Regions from separate parts of the Homo sapiens genome. Here all the other regions are reported to be linked to region 1. Evidence: microRNA targets listed by miRTarBase, many of them from high-throughput screens and not tested one by one. Region 1 holds a microRNA gene; each other region holds the end of a gene's coding sequence.
What was found. The annotated mature microRNA hsa-miR-548c-3p reads CAAAAAUCUCAAUUACUUUUGC and lies in region 1 at 1,973-1,994, opposite strand. An mRNA with a match to its seed (bases 2 to 7 or 8) in the 3' UTR can be bound and repressed. Matches are read on the target gene's strand: a 7mer-m8 pairs with bases 2 to 8, a 7mer-A1 pairs with bases 2 to 7 and ends in A, and an 8mer does both.

Region 2: the mRNA of ATF7IP2 is a reported target of hsa-miR-548c-3p. Seed matches in the 3' UTR shown: 7mer-m8 at 838-844 and 7mer-A1 at 991-997.
Region 3: miRTarBase lists NAA30 as a target of hsa-miR-548c-3p. Seed matches in the 3' UTR shown: 8mer at 1,965-1,972, 7mer-A1 at 1,188-1,194, 7mer-A1 at 978-984, 7mer-A1 at 437-443 and 7mer-A1 at 149-155.

Annotation. Positions count from the first base shown.
Region 1 is chr12:64,621,522-64,624,562 of GRCh38, reverse strand. MIR548C (microRNA 548c) reads right to left here and starts at 2,054; the gene lies at 1,958-2,054. The region is part of intron 1 of RASSF3 (Ras association domain family member 3); the gene reads right to left. It overlaps MIR548Z (microRNA 548z), which reads left to right and starts at 1,958; the gene lies at 1,958-2,054. RefSeq lists an enhancer at 2,973-3,041.
Region 2 is chr16:10,481,898-10,484,938 of GRCh38, forward strand. It overlaps ATF7IP2 (activating transcription factor 7 interacting protein 2), which reads left to right. Exons shown (of 14, transcript NM_001393719.1): 14 at 1-1,741. The coding sequence ends at 352. Among named protein-coding and RNA genes, the nearest start is that of LINC01290, 45 kb to the right of the region's middle.
Region 3 is chr14:57,409,151-57,412,191 of GRCh38, reverse strand. NAA30 (N-alpha-acetyltransferase 30, NatC catalytic subunit) reads right to left here. Exons shown (of 5, transcript NM_001011713.3): 5 at 1-2,813. The coding sequence ends at 2,676. Among named protein-coding and RNA genes, the nearest start is that of NAA30, 20 kb to the right of the region's middle.

The sequences.
Region 1 (3,041 bases):
TGGCCCATACCTGTAATACCAGCGCTTTGGGAGGCCAAGGCAGGAGGATCACTTGAGCCCAGGAGTTCAAGACCAAACTGAGCAACATAGTGAGACCCTGTCTCTTAAAAATGTAAAAAATAAAAATAAATTAAAAAAACAAAGAGGTACAATGACTTGCTCAAGATAATACAGCTAGCACTGATTTAAACACAGGGTGCCCTACATAGCTGCTTGCAATTAATCAATTAAGAACACACACCCTTTTAGCCTATAGTTCTCCCTCTTTTTCATTACTGAGTTTTAAGCCCTCACCTCAAACAAGCAAGATGCATTGTAATGTTAATTTTAAAACTGTAACAGAGCTTCCTCCTTTAGGAATGGATTGTAAGTGGATTTGTTGATATCGGTGCTAGGTTTGCCTTTATGAAACGTACTCGTTCCGCTACACAATAAGCCCAAATTCTCTTCCCCCAAATTTCACAAATACTAATTTGGATACAGAGACCATCAACATGACAGCCAAGGATCAAACCCCTGCATGGCAGCAGCACCTCATTCATGCTAATTGACAGTTTCACGTGACCAAATCTGGTCAGAGGAAAAGCAAGAAAGCAATTCTAAAACAGAAATATGGCCGGACATGGTGGCTCACCCCTGTAATCCCAACACTTTGGGAGGCAGAGGCGGGCAGATCGGTTGAGGCCAGAAGTTTGAGGCCAGTCTGGCCAACACGGTGAAACTCTCTCTCTACTAAAAAAATAAAAATAAAAATTAGCCAGGCATGGTGGCGGGTGCTGGCAATCCCAGCTACTCGGGAAGCTGAGGCATGAGAATTTCTTGAACCTGGGAAGCAGAAGCTGCAGTGAGCCGAGATCGTGCCACTGCACTCCAGCCTGGGTGACAGAGTGAGACTCCATCTCAAAAAAATAAAAGAAAATAAAATTCTGAAATATCTGAAAGGGCTGTACCTTCCACCTAAAGGAACACTGGCAAGAAAAGCAATCCACAAGCCTGTCTGAACAAACAGAAACAGACCTTAAATGGACAAACGTAATATTGTTTCTTTATACCATCTACATAATATTTACATTTTCCCATAGCTGGGAAATTACTCACTACAGTCAAGTACCCCTAAATTTACCTCTGGCATGTCATGAAACCTGCATCTGCTTAAGGCCTAAACGGATAAACGTGCTAGTTAAATTTCTCATCTCAGAGTTCCTCTGAAATTAAAGTCCAATAAAATCAACTGAATTTTAATTCCCTTGGAATGCCCTGTTAACTGTAAAACACTAAGAAATGCTAAAGTTAATTTTGGTACTGGTACTTTTCCTCCTACGTGATATATTTAACTATGTTGTTTTCTATTTTCATTTAAAAAAATTTTGCTCCTATGACTTTGCTGGCAAAATATCAAAAAAGATTCCTCGAAACAAGCATTTGTAGAAAATTTTCACGGTGGCCGGGCGCGGTGGCTCATGCTTATAATCTCAGCACTCAGGGAGGCCGAGGCAGGCGGATCACCTGAGGTCAGGGGTTCGAGACCAGCCTGACCAACATGGTGAAACCCCGTCTCTACTAAAAATACAAAAATTAGCTGGGCATGGTGGTATGCGCCTGTATTCCCAGCTACTGGGGAGGCTGAGACTGAAGAATCACTTGAACTCAGGAGATGGAGGTTGCAGTGAGCCAAGATCGTGCCACTGTACTACAGCCTGGGCAACAGAGCAAGACTCCATCTCAAAAAAAAAAAGAAAGAAAAAAGAAAATTTTCACAGTAAGCTTGTTTGAATTAAGAAATTGGGGATTAAGGAGGGCTCATAATCTATCAATCATAAAGTCAGAAGTAACTCTTCACATCTTTTTAAAAGATTCACTTGATAAAAAGATTCTGAAAGAAAAAATTTAAAGTAGGAGTTAATCAGAATAAAAGAGATTAAGCAACAATTTTCTACTTAGGCTTCAACAAGCCTGAAAGTATTAAGTTGGTGCAAAAGTAATTGAGATTTTTGCTACTGAAAGTAATGGCAAAAACCGCAATTACTTTTGCACCAACCTAATAGATGCCAATGCCGATTCCTTTCTCATCGCAATTTTTCAACAAAAGACAGTAAGCCTATAAGTAAACAGTATAAATTATCTTTGGTGGGTAAGGTTTCCAGCAGTTTGTCCTACCATCCTTTTTTCAATACCTAGTATACTTACAAAATAAGTTAGGACTGGCCAGGCACGGTGGCTCACACCTGTAATCCCAACACTTTGGGAGGCCAAGGCAGGCGGATAACGAGCTCAGGAGTTTGACACCAGCCTGACCAACATGGTGAAACCCTGACTCTACTAAAAATACAAAAAAAAAAAAAAAAATAGCTGGACATGGTGGTGCATGCCTGTAATCCCAACTACTCAGGAGGCTGAGGCAGGAAAATAGCTTGAATCTGGGAGGCAGAGATTGCAGTGAGCCAAGATCGCGCCACTGCACTCCAGCCTGGTGACAGAGCAAGACTGTCAAAAAGATAAAAATAAATAAGTTAGGTTCTTCTAAATTCTACCAGAGTGGTTGGAAAACAAGCCCTAAATTTATTGAAATTCAAAGATAAACAGGAACTTCTAGTCACCCTTTTTTTTAAAACACATGGTTAGTAGAAAACACATCACCCAACTCCCCACCTTCTGAATCCCACGGGTTTATTTATGGTGATGCTTTCTTAGCAATGCCTTTCCCATGTTGTAACTACAGGAGTAATAAGTATTTTTCTGAGTTTCAGTGATGTCAGCCTGAAACACATTCTGAAGTATTTCAAAATGCCTGGGCCGGGCACGGTGGCTCACGCCTATAATCCCAGCACTTTGGGAGGCCCAGGCGGGTAGATTACCGGAGATCAGGAGTTCGAGACCATCCAGCCTGATCAATCCTGTCTCTACTAAAAATACAAAAATTAGCCGCGCATAGTGGCGCATGCCCATAATCCCAGCTACTTGGGAGGATGAAGCAGGAGAATCACTTGAACCTGGGAGGCGGAGGTTGCAGTGAGCCAAGTTCGCACCATTGCTCTCCAGCC
Region 2 (3,041 bases), not on the chromosome of region 1:
AGTAGACAAAACCCGAGACACACTTCCTCCCCAGAAGCCTGAGCTCAAAGTGAAACGGGTTTTCAGACCCAATGGCATTGCCCTGACTTGGAATATAACCAAAATCAATCCCAAGTGTGCTCCTGTAGAAAGCTACCACCTCTTCCTGTGTCATGAGAACTCTAATAATAAGTTGATTTGGAAGAAGATTGGAGAAATTAAAGCTTTACCACTCCCCATGGCCTGTACTTTATCTCAGTTTTTAGCTTCCAACAGATACTATTTTACTGTCCAATCAAAAGATATTTTTGGACGATATGGACCATTCTGTGATATAAAATCTATCCCTGGGTTTTCTGAAAATCTTACGTAAAAGGTGTTTAATAATGATATACTACTTTTTTTTTCATATTTGTTTGTTTGCAATGTTACTGTAATACTATTTGCCATTGTAAAAGGCCAGCTCAGATTGTGAGCCCTTTCTATTGGGACAGTCCTCTTCTATATGTTTTAAGTGGCCAGTAATTTAATGAATTTCTGGTTTGTATTAAATATGTCCTTCCAATGGATAAGTTCTAAAACATACGCTATCATTGGCCCATGTTGCTGAGGTGCATTGTGAACAATACCTTTAGTGACTGTGGAACTGCTGCTTCTATCAGAAGACCTAGGATACAAGCAGCCACTGTTTCCTCCGTTAACAATCAGCTTTTAGTAACCTGCTGTGGTCAGCATAGCTACAGGAAAAGTCAGCCCTTGACTGAGGGCCAGATCATCCCTGGAGTGCACCTCTACTAAGATTTTATGAAAAGATGACATGTTGGGCTGCATGATAAAAGTTAATTATAAAAATTAAAAGATTTTTTTTTTTGAGATGGAATATTGCTCTGTTGCCCAGGCTGGAGTACAGTGGTCACTGCAACCTCCATCTCCCTGGTTCAAGCAATTCTCCTATGTCAGCCTCCCAAGTAGCTGGGACTATAGTCACTTGCCACCATGCCCGGCTAATTTATTTTTAGTAGAGATGAGGTTTCACCTTGTTGGTCAGGCTGGTCTCAAACTCCTGACCTCAGGGGATCCACCCGCCTCGGCCTCCCGAAGTGCTGGGATTATAGGCGTAAGCCACCATGCCTGGCCAAAAATTAAAAGATTTTATGAAACGAAATGGCTTCCCATTCTTTCTATTCAGCTTCTAAGTGGGCTATTCATTTGTGCTCTCCTCTTTTTTGTTTTGTTTTGCACTTTGTCAATCATTTGGGGAAATAGCCTGGAGGTCTTTCCTGAATCTGTTTGTAGACATAATAAAATTTGTGTGCTGTGTACACAAAAACATAATGTATCTTATGAAAGCATTACCCAACCTGTTTGAGTTGAGAATGCATTTGTCCACCTTTGATTTGAGGCTTTAGTTTGCTGATTTCCTAAATGCTACCCTTTGATCATTTCCTGGCCACCATCACAATACTAAGGGGCTCAGATGTGTCTTGTGCCCACCTCTTCCTGAGAAGAGATGGAAGTGGAGCTGTGACTAGTACAAGCAGCCCAAGAAACTCTGAACGGGGCCCAATGGAGGCAAACTTGAGCAAATAATTGGGATGATAAGAAACAAAAATAATCCCAACTGTTTGAAAGTTCGAAAGAGGGGCATTCTTTTCTGGTACATGGTGAGAGTTCAGGCTCCAGAGACTCAAAACGGAATGGTTTTCCTTGGCATTTTGTAAATGCTCTCACATCTGTAGCAATAAAGCTGTTATTTTCTGCAGTGTTCTATGTCTTTATTTTTAAGAAAATTACTGATTCATGAGAGGAACTGCCCAGTGAGTTCCATTTCCTACTCAGAGCCAGGAACTCACCCTGGGATTGCCATGGACTAGACATTCACTCACTGTGAAGCCCAAAGACGCGGCCTATAAACAAGATTTTGGTACCCATTACCAAGTGAACCTGCATCTGCAACCAGTGGGCCATCTGGAACGATGATCGATGCTCAAGTCTCTAGCAAATGAGCCTTTATGATCACAGGAAGAGAGAGAGAGGCTGACAGCAAACCTCTTAAGAGGTGGTACCTCAGAAAGCATTACTGTAGCTGGCGCGGTGGCTCACGCCTGTAATCCCAGCACTTTGGAAGGCCGAGGCAGGTGGATCACGAGGTCAGGAGATTGAGACCATCCTGGCTAACATGGTGAAACCCCATCTCTACTAAAATTAATTACAAAAAAATTAGCTGGGCGTGGTGGCAGGCACCTGTAGTCCCAGCTACTCGGGAGGCTGAGGCAGGAGAATGGTGTGAACCCAGGAGGCGGAGCTTGCAGTGAGCCAAGATCACACCACTGCACTCCAGCCTGGGCGACAGAGCAAGACTCCATCTCAAAAAAAAGCATTACTGTTTTGCCTTTTGGTGAGGCGGGGCAAGATCAACAGTTTTGTTTGTTCATTTGTTCTTGAGATAGGATCTCTGTTACCCAGGCCGGAGTGCAGTGGCAGCATCAGTGCCCCTGCAGCCTCGACTTCTTGGGCTCAAGTGATCCTCCCACCTTAGCCTCTCAAGTAGGTGGGACTACAGGTGTGCACCACCATGCATGGCTAATTTTTTTGAATTTTAGTATTGATGAGGTCTCACTATGTTGCCCAGCCTGGTCTCGAGCTCAAGGGATCCTTCCGCCTGGGCCTCCTAAAGTGCTTGGATTATAGGCAGATCCTCGACTGTTAACACAGCAGTGACACCAGAAAGGAGCTAGCCAGCCTAAGGACAAAAGTCATGCTCGTAACACAGTCACACAGTACACAGAACCCACAACCTGACCCCACCCCACAAAATGCTTCCTATACCTCCAGTGGGAAACCTTTATACCTTCATTAGGTAACAGAATCAAACTGAGTGATGACTGAAAATTGAATACATTGAGAAAAGGCTACGGAGTGGCCCAAGGAATCACTAGGAATCCTACAGACTCAAGGAAAAAATACTTTGCAACAACCCAATGAGGTTTGGAACCTGCTACAGTTTATGCAATTCACATTCTACATAATGATATGTTAGACATTTTATGCCCATTTGAAAG
Region 3 (3,041 bases), not on the chromosome of region 1:
CTGGTTTCTGATCTGTGGACTTTGCTAAAGTAGTTTCATCCCAATGTACAGGAAATACAGGAAATTATAATCAGCCCACACATCAAAAATGATAGTATACCCGTTAGCTTCTTCAATACTAACATATATAGCTTCATGGTAGCATGTATAAAAATGTTCAGCAGTACCAACTGCCAAACCAGTGTCAGTGGATAGTACAGTCAGTCCTAAAGAGGCAGCACCCCATTAAAAGAAAGTTGCATCTATTTTGCTCAGTTGTAGCCAAGTGAACCCATGCTACCAATTTCAGATAGAATTGTTTTAAGCTTATTTAAGAAAAACAACAGCCTATTATCAAAAAGTAAATTACTGTTTGAGGCTACTTCAACCTGAATGGAGTCTTTCAGTGTTGGTGCTGGGTTTTCATGCTAGAGGTTAAAATTTTAATCTACTTAAGTAAAAATTTTTTTGCATACCCAATTAAAGACATAAGGCATACACTGACATTCAACATATTCCAAACAATATGGCAACCATCTGACTTTTTAGTCACACAGTTAACGTCATCTTTACAAACACCCAACCAGTTCAGTCAATTTGGCAATTTTGGAGGAAAAGGTCAGTATGATGGTTTCATTGACAATCTGGCAAAAACACTAAAATGGTTGAACCAATGATCTATCTACTTTACAACCATCCCTATTAGTGATTTAAGCAAATATATGTTCATCAACCATTATGTATCAACCAGCAAGTCAAATATAAAGAAGTGAAATAAAATTTGATGACATAAATGTTTTAGTTCCATTTCCTTCATATTAAATAACAAAAGCATCACTGTGATTGGTATTCTTCTAAATGCTAGTGCCTAAATGAAGTTTGACCAAAAACATATTGAAAGGCTGAGTACTGTGTGGTTACCATATTTTTATTATAACCAGTATTGTATTCTGCTCATTAAACTTTCAAGAGCAATATAAAAAGGAAAACATTTTCTTTAAAAATAAAGAACTATAAATAATCCCACCAGCAGAAAGTTTTTATTTTCAAATATAAATTGTGTATCTTTATTTTTAAAGTATTTGTTACTATGTTCACTTTCAAAACACTATACTGAGCAAAGAGCAGCTTTCCTTTAAAAAAAAAAAAAAAGCAACAAACTTTCCTGAAAAGGGGCCTTTACCAACTGTTAATGGAGGTAGGGTTTTTAAAAATACAGTAATTAGAGCCACAAAATATATTCCAAACCAAATACTAGAGCAGAAGTAGAGCATATTCAAATGAAAACAACAACAGATTCCTACAGTTTTCACAGAGAATGAATCTTTTTTCTTATGGGTACCTAGGTTTTCCAGTTAAATAAATTATCTATCACAGGTTTACTGACTCAATTGAAAGCAATTAACTGTAAAATTTGTTACATTGCACTGATTGGCCAAAACACAATGTAACTAATAAACATGGTGGCTGTTAAGAAAACCCACAGAACTCATTCCAAAAAAGATTTTCATTTCCCCCTTTTGTTTTTCTGGCAGAAGAAAAGCAAAGCTCCCCCAAGAATTTGCTCATACAAGTGAAAATAAAATAAAGCAGCTTAAAATGGATACAATGCACCTTGAAATTTATTTCCAAGACCAAGAACCTGAAGTGAAGCATTTTAAGAAATGAAAGCAATGTGAATCCAAATCAAGTGGGAAAAACAAATTCAGCTACTTTGTAAAAGCTGTTCTTCGCAGCGTAGCAGTAATTTTGATTAAATAAAATCATATCAACTTACACTAATTTTCTATTCTTTTCCAAAACTTCCCTTACTCTCAAAAGAAAAAGTGCATCTAAACCCCAGCAATTCCCGGCTCCATCAACTTTTCTTATCTCTTTTGAGCCATTTCTCAATTTTCCAAGTAGATTCAACTTGTTACTGTAAGGAAAAAGGGACTTCTAAAGTAAACCATTCTTTCATTCACCTGAAAAAAGTATCCAAATTATAAAAATCTGAAATAATTTATCAAATTTAGAATTTAAATAAAAACAAAAGTTTGCTTGCAAAGGCCTTAAAGAAAAGGAAAAGATAGCATGCATTCAAAAACTAGAGATGAAGACAAATATACTTATCTACACAGGCACTGGCAGACAAAATTTAATTGTTACCTTTACTCATTGTAAGACATACCCACCCTACATTTTTTTCATTCACTAATCACTGAGGTACCAATATTCAAGAATGGAAAATTTAATATTGAAAAAATAAAACCTAAAACTGAAGCGTCTCCCTCACCCACTTCAGAAAACTAGGGCAGGTTTTGTGTGAAATGTTAGTATACTTAAAGACTTTTACAATCCACATTGGCTTTTTTAAGGAACAAAAATTATGTTCCACTTACTGGTTCTGTGATAAAATGATCACTGTGTAAATAACATTGTCAGCAGACTTTGCAAATGAACACATAAATCTTGGCTATCAACTGGCACATCTTGTTGGTACCAAAAGAACTCCTGAAGTTTAAAACAATCTTTTAATTCAGAACAAATGTGCCATGCCAAAGTGCAACAAATATTGTGCGACACTCAATGAGACACTGACAGGTAAGAGCTGCATGGAAATTACTAAATCCACCTGCAAAGCAATTCTGTACAAATTGCATTGCATGCAAAGGTCGATTCTGTGCGGATGATAGTTGTTCCTTGATGTCAGTTTCTCAACGCAGCCACAGTTTAAGTCGCAGTGCATCAACTCCATTTAAATAGTATCTGAACAGCCTCTTATCTCGAACAAAACCAAGATTTTCATAAAGTTTCAAAGCGGACTTATTTGTTATTTCGGTTTCCAAAACAACCTTCAAAGAAATGAGAAAAAAACTAAGTTATAATTACACAATTTAAAAAATAATTTACCAACTAAACAATTTTTTAAAAAATCATACATTATTTTAAAAATTGATAGTGAAAACAATAAATAATATACAGAAAGAACTCAAAAACAGTCATCAAGATTGTAATATTATATTTGGGTCAAGGGCTTGGAGGACCACTGCAGATTTATCTTCTGTTCTACTGATTTGTGT